Homo sapiens: one gene and its partner. The protein of the gene in region 1 purifies or fractionates together with the protein of each later gene. This does not show direct contact. Each region holds a gene or a part of one and is shown in the gene's direction. Other genes may lie near its edges.

What was found. Proteins that work in one complex are often made in the same cells at the same time.
Region 2: the proteins of DPH5 (region 1) and NMD3 fractionate together in Homo sapiens (co-fractionation; one large-scale study listed by BioGRID). This does not show direct contact.

What each region holds. Positions count from the first base shown.
Region 1 is NC_000001.11:100,991,724-100,995,166, reverse strand, and holds part of DPH5 (diphthine methyl ester synthase), read left to right. Parts: intron 1-17; coding exon 18-57; intron 58-2,426; coding exon 2,427-2,530; intron 2,531-3,443. UniProt on the Homo sapiens protein: S-adenosyl-L-methionine-dependent methyltransferase that catalyzes four methylations of the modified target histidine residue in translation elongation factor 2 (EF-2), to form an intermediate called diphthine methyl ester.
Region 2 is NC_000003.12:161,241,811-161,245,615, forward strand, and holds part of NMD3 (60S ribosomal export protein NMD3), read left to right. Parts: intron 1-697; coding exon 698-843; intron 844-3,805. UniProt on the Homo sapiens protein: Acts as an adapter for the XPO1/CRM1-mediated export of the 60S ribosomal subunit.

The sequences.
Region 1 (3,443 bases):
ATTTTTACTTCCTACAGACATCAAAGTAAAGGAGCAGTCTTTGGAAAATCTAATCAAGTAAGTTATTATTCTGAGAATGCATACATGTGTTTTATTTCCTTGAACAATTCAATACATTCTACTTAAATGACCTGAGTTCTAAAGATGGTTGAAAATGAGCTCTCATTAACAGTGTGAACATTAAGCATTTTTATTCTTACGAAATGATAAGCAGTATAATAGAGTAGAAATAGCAATATATTTTGTGGATTCAACACTGAGAACAGTGGTTGGCATCTAACAGACACTCAGTGTTTGTGGAATGAATTAATGCGTTGGGATTCTGAAAACATGGGTGTGAGGCCGGGTGCGGTTGTTCATGCCTGTAGTCCCAGCACTTTGGGAGGCTGAGGCAGGTGGATTGTTTGAGGCCAGGAGTTCAAAACCAGCCTGGCCAACATGGTGAAACCACGTCTCTACTAAAAATGGAAAAATTAGCTGGGTGTGGTGGCACGTGCCTTTAATCTCAGCTACTTGGGAGGTTGAGGCACGAGAATCGCTTGAATCTGGGAGGCAGAGGTTGCAGTGAGCTGAGATCACGCCACTGCACTCCAGCCTGGGTAACAGAGTGAGAAAAAAAAAAAAAAGGCATGGGTTTGAGTCCTGAGTCTGCCTCTAGTTGAGTGCTCTTGGGCAAGTTACTTCCATCTCTGAGCCTTATTTTCTTCAGATGTATAATGATAGTACTAATCCTTTTTTACTTAGAGAGGCAGTGTCTAATACAGTACCCCCTACCCACTTGTGACTAAGGAGCATTTGAAATGTGGCTAATGTGACTGAGGAACTGAATTTTTCATTTAATTTTAATTAATTAAAAAATGATACTCTGTTATTGGAAAACTTTTAAGTATGTTTGGAACAGCTTTAGTATATAAATCAACTGTTAAAACCATAAATTTTATGAAAGTTAAATACAGATCAACTATTTCCAATGAAAATTTAATATCCAAATTAAGGTGTGCTGTAAGAACATATCAGATTTCAAAGACTTAATATAAAAACAATCTCTTTAATAATTTTTATATGAGTAGGTGTTAAATTACAACATTTTGGATTAATTAAAATATTAAAATTTTTGCCTTTTTTGGCTGGGCGTGGTGGCTCATGCCTGTAATCCCAGTACTTTGGGAGGCCGAGGCAGGTGGATCACGAGGTCAGCAGTTCGAGACCAGCCTGGCCAAGATGGTGAAACCCCGTCTGTACTAAAAATACAAAAAAAATTAGCCAGGCATGGTGGCAGGCACCTGTAATCCCAGCTACTCGGGAGGCTGAGGCAGAGAATTGCTTGAACCCAGGAGGCAGAGGTTGCAGTGAACCAATATCACGCCACTGTACTGCAGCCTGGGCAACAGAGTGAGACTGTCTTAAAAAAAAAAATTGCCTTTTTACAAACTTTTTTGTTAATATGGCTACTAGAAAACTTGATTCTATATATGGCTTCATTTATATTTCTATTGGATAGCACTGACAGAATTTTTTTGAGAGTCAGTAAAATAATCTATTTGAACTGTGTTGTAAGCCACAATAGCTATATATATATATATATATATATATATATATATATATATTTATATTTTCGACAGAGTCTTGCTCTGTCGCCCAGGCTGGAGTGCAGTGGTGTCATCTCAGCTCGCTGCAACCTCCGTCTCCCGGGTTCAATTGATTCTCCTGTCTCAGTCTTCTGAGTAGCTGGGATTACAGGCGTGCGCCACCAAGCCACGCTAATTTTTTTTATTTTTAGTAGAGACGGAGTTTCACCATGTTGGTCAGGCTGGTCTCAAACTCCTGACTTTGTGATCCACCCGCCTCTGCCTCCCAAAGTGCTGGGATTACAGGCATGAGCCACCACGCCTGGCCTGCAATGGCTATATTTTTGTTAATATGATAGTTCGGCAAGCCTGATAGGCTTTTGAGGCATACAGAAATAAACGTATGCCATCACCTGAGATTTTTAAGCATCCAAGATGCTTTAGTTTACTTTTCTTAGAGGAAACAGTGAAAAGAATATGTGGTTTAAAAATGGTCATAAAAAGGACACTAAATAACCTGATTAAGCTAGAGTATAGACCAAATTGCCACTTACTTTGAATTGTTTTTACCAAAGGTATCACTTTGAATAAAGATAACTTTCATTTAGACATCTATCTTTATGTGTTCCTGCCATCATTTCAGTGAGATCAGAGGAAAGTTAAATTAGAACAATGAAAAAGCTTAAGAAATGAACAATCATCATGCTTTTGTGTATGCTTAAAGTGAGTACATGTAAAAAAACATCAAACAGAATGTAGACTGTGGTACTTGAGTATACCTGGGAGAGCTAATTGCATTAATAACATATTATGTAGTTTCATGGCTAAGAACAGTGGCATCTAGTTTTCTGCCTATAGGGGAAGGAAGATCTATGAACCTCCACGGTATATGAGTGTAAACCAAGCAGCCCAGCAGCTTCTGGAGATTGTTCAAAATCAAAGAATACGAGGAGAAGAACCAGGTACTCAAGACACTAGAAGGGCTCTCATATTATTCCTCTGTTACTACATTTAGATGTGTATATGACTTAATATCTCATACCACTATGGAAGCAAGAGTCAGTATTTTTGTATTGTACTATTTCTTGTCATTTTTGTCCAACTTTAACTTAAATCCCATAGGCTTCAAGTTGTAGTGAAAGAAAAAAAAATTGGCATTCTTTTATAGTATAATTAACACCATTCCAGAAAGTGAGGATTTTTCACAAATTAAACATAAGTCACATTTGATATAAATATATTACTGTATAAATATTTTTGTAAAATATATCTATTATGTTATCCCTAATCAATGGTGAGATCTATCCTGCAAAAATATACTTATCGTTCTTTTATTCTCCCTCCTTTCATTCTTAATATTGAGACTAGGAATAGTTTTCTTCAGGGTAAATATAAGAGAAAATTTGTTCTTATATTCCTAATATGTAGACACAGTGTGTGGTATATAATAGAAATGTTTATTGTCAATAAATCTTTATGGGAGGTTCTTTTTTTTTTTTTTGAGAGAGGGTCTCACTTTGTCACGCAGGCTGGAGTGCAGAGGCACTATCTCAGCTCATTGCAGCCTCCACCTCCTGGGCTCAAGTGATCCTCCCACCTTAGCTGAACTACAAGTGCATGCCACCATGCCCAGCTAATTTCTTTGTGTGTTTTTGGTAGAGACAGGGTTTCACCATGTTGCCCAGGCTTTTCTCGAATTCCTTGGCTCAAGCAATCCTCCCACCTCAGCCTCCCAAAGCCTCCCAAAGTGTTGGGATTACAGGTGTGAACCACCACGCCTGGCCCACTGTGAGACTTTTTTTTTTTTTTTGAGATGGGGTCTTGCTTTGTTGCCCAAGTTAGAGTGCAGTGGTGCAATCATGGCTCACTGCAACC
Region 2 (3,805 bases), on another chromosome or scaffold:
GAACATTTGGCTTTTTGTGGCCCATTGGAACATTTAGTTTGAATATGAATTTTAACCAATTTTGTTATTACTGTAGATCATTTTTTAACATTGTCTATAGAATAAATTATTTTTTAAGGAAGACCACATTTTGGTAGGTATCTTAGTATTTGGATGTATCTTCTGCTTGATCTTTTTCATGTATTTTCTGTAATATAAGTTTCCTTTATACAAAAAGTGAGTTTATTTTGATATTTTTCAAAGTCATTCATTATCTTTATCAGTTAGGATTCATAAGTTAAAGATCTGTTAGCAATATTGGGATGGACATTCTTTACCTATCTGGTAGAACTAGGCTTTATTTCCCATAAACTAAGCAGCTAAGGTGACAGATACGTTTCTAAAATAAAGTGCCAGCACGTGAAACAGCTGTACCACTGATTGGCTCTGATCTTACTTAAGAGGCACTTAGCCCTGTGGCATTCTGGTTATAGTAACTATTTAAGATATGTTTGACATCTGATATATTTTTCTTGTGCTTTGAGAAGTTTGGGATTGGTTTATAGGAGTAATTGATGACCCTAAGGAGTGAGTTGACACTAGTTCTGTTGACCTGCCACTTCCCAGTTGGTATCTACCAGTTTATTCTTAGTTAATACATTTGATAATTGAAATATATAATTTTTCTTATGTTTTTGTGTTCTATCCTTATTTTTAGTGGCAGATATTGATGGGAGCACTTTCTGGAGTCACCCTTTCAATAGTTTATGTCATCCCAAACAGCTAGAGGAGTTTATTGTGATGGAATGCAGCATAGTCCAAGATATAAAACGTGCTGCAGGTGCTGGAATGATATCAAAAAAGGTAAGCTACATCCTGCCTGCCAGTGTATTTTTTTTTCCCCTCAGTTATTATTGTTTCAGTCCCTCTTTTAAAAAAAATTTGTTGGTGTTTCCACAGTATGGAATCCAAACTTAGCACCACATTAGGAAAAAAATTCTTTTTTTTTTTGTCTTTTTAATATGTGGTCATTGTGGAAATTGTTAGACTTAGACTGTTAAGTTAATTTATTCTCTTTTGTGTAGGAAAAATCTTTTAAATGTTTATTCCATTATATTTAAAAAAGGCATTTCTTTGCTTTATTTTTATAGAGGAGGACCTTTATTTTTGTAGTGGTTATCTTGACTTTTAAAAAGTCATCACCAAATACTAAATACTTCAGTGTGCATCTCTCACACACAGGAATATTTTTCTACATAATGAAAATGTTGTTACCATACCTATAAAACATACAGTCTACACAGTATTCTGCTCTTATCCATGGGGATACATTCCAAGACCCCCAGTGGATTTTTGAAACAACCCACAATAGTACCAAACTCTATGTGTATTGTTTTTTCCTATACATACATACCTATGATAGAGTTTAATTTATAAATTAGGCACAGTAAGAGATTAACAATAATTAATAATAAAATAGACCAATTATAATAATATACTGTAATAAAAGTTGTGTGAATGTAGTCTCTTTCTTAAAGTTATCTAATTCTACTCCACCAACCTGTTTTTGGATAGCGATTAACTGTGGGCAGATGAAAACTTTGAAAGGGAAACTATGGATAAGGGGGGGATTACTGTGTTCAGATTTCCTCATTTGTCCCAAAAGTGTCTTTTATGCCTTGTTCAAACAGGTATTCAATTGGAGACCACTCATTAAATGGGAATATTATACCTTTTTAGTCTTTTATTTAATAATAGTCCCCTTCTTTTTTCTTTTATTGGTTATGATACCAACTTCCTTAGACAACTAGTGCATTTATCTTGTAGAATACTCCACCTTCTAAATCTATCTAATTGTTTCCTCATGATGCCATTTAACTAGCTTCTTAATTCATTGTGTTTCCTCTAAACTGGAAAGTTGATCTAAAGGTTTGGTTACATTTAGGTTAAATTTTTCTTGCCAGAATATTTCAGAGATGATGCCATGTACTTTTTATTATATCAAGAGACAAGTAATGTCTGACTGTTTCACTTGTTAACATAGTGATAGTCAGATTCCTCCATTGTAATGTTATGATTTTTTTTCCTTCTGACCAGCAAGCAATCTGTGGCTTAATACTATAATAATATGCAAGTACTGAGTTCCTGTTACCTCTTTTTTTTTCTGGCTTTAGCATCTGTTGATAATTCTTGCCCATAAATTAATTATTTTATTCAGGGTTACAAAATGGTGAATTTTCTATTTCTATTCTACATTTACTAGCTGTCATTCTTAAAGAAGAGCTTTTCATTATTAACTAGGGGTTATGTAGCTTTCCTGAAATGCTCGCCTGCATACATTCTTTTAATTAATTAATTTTAGACATGATCTTGCCGTGTTGTTTGGGCTGGAGTGCGGTATGGCTTCATAGCTCACTGCAGCCTCAAACTCCTGGGCTCAAATGATCCTCCTGCCTCAGCCTCCTGAGTAGCTGGGACCACAAGTATGTGCCACCATGCCCAGCTAATTTTTTAATTTCTTTGTAGAGATGGGGTCTCCATGTTACTCAGGCTGGTCTTGAACTCCTGAGCTCAAGCAATCCTCCTGCCTTGGCCTCCCAAAGTGTTGGGATTACAGGCGTGAGCCACCTCCCCTGGCCTATGCATAAATTATTAATTCTTTTAGCAAATATTTTTAGAGTAAAGAGTTGATCTAGGAATCATTTCCAGTGGTGAAAATTAGCTTACATGTACAGGTGGTGTCTCTCTTTGTGATTATCATTGTGATCTCCTGAAGTATAAGTATTGTATCATTTACTGTATTTTCTTTTGTTTTCTTCTTCTCTCCTCCTCTCCCTTCATTTCTTTTCCTTTTTTTTTTTTTTTTTTAAAGAGACAAGGTCTCACTCTGTCTCTCAGAGCTGGAGTTCAATGGTATGATCATAGGTCACTGGAACCTTGAGGTTGTGTGCTCCAGTGATCTTACCACCTCAGCATGCTGCCACACCTGTCTCATTTCTATTTTTTAATTTTTTGTAGAGTCAATCTCACTGTTTTTTCAGGCTTGTCTCAAACGATCCTACTGCCTCCCTTATAGGAATGAGCATGAGCGCCTGCCCTTTCTTTTTTTTGAAATCCTCATATTGCCCTAAATTTATTCAATGGGAGCCCCTTCAGAATGGTTCCTATGTTGTTTTGACGTGACTCTCCTGGTCTTTGAAAGCATCCTTGATTTCTGGTGCAACACAGCATTCAGGTGTTCCAGAATCACATGTATAGTTTATAACCCATATCTGAAATCAAATGTTTCTTCAAAGATGAAAGTCTGGCTTCTTTTACTGTGAAATAGTATCTAGAGACTCCCAGGGTACCCTTGTGTGTGTGTGTGTGTGTGCGTGCTAATAATGCTTCTTGAGACAAAAATAACTTGTGATAATTTGGGAAAAATTAATGGAAATGGAAGACAGATGACATTCTACATTTTATTTATAAATTAAGGTAATGTACTTAGGGCAAACTTTTCATTTATAATAAATGTAGAGTATCATTTCCCTTCAGGCAGATATAAAACCAGATACTGTATTTTCTTGGTTTTTAAAAAATAGCTAGAAGAGGTTAATAAATTTCTTACAAGCAGAAGTCTAATAGCTAGAAAGTAAATCCTGTTAAATAAAATGTAGTCTCCCTGTTAATTGACTTTTCTTTTGCAGTTCTTAAGTTTGAGACTTGTCTTTTATTTCAGTTTCTCCTTCTGCTCTATTTCTTTTCATTTTTTTCATTTCTTTTTCTTTGACCAACTGCAATAAGAAACACTTGATTCTTTTCATAACTTTATTTTGAGATTCCT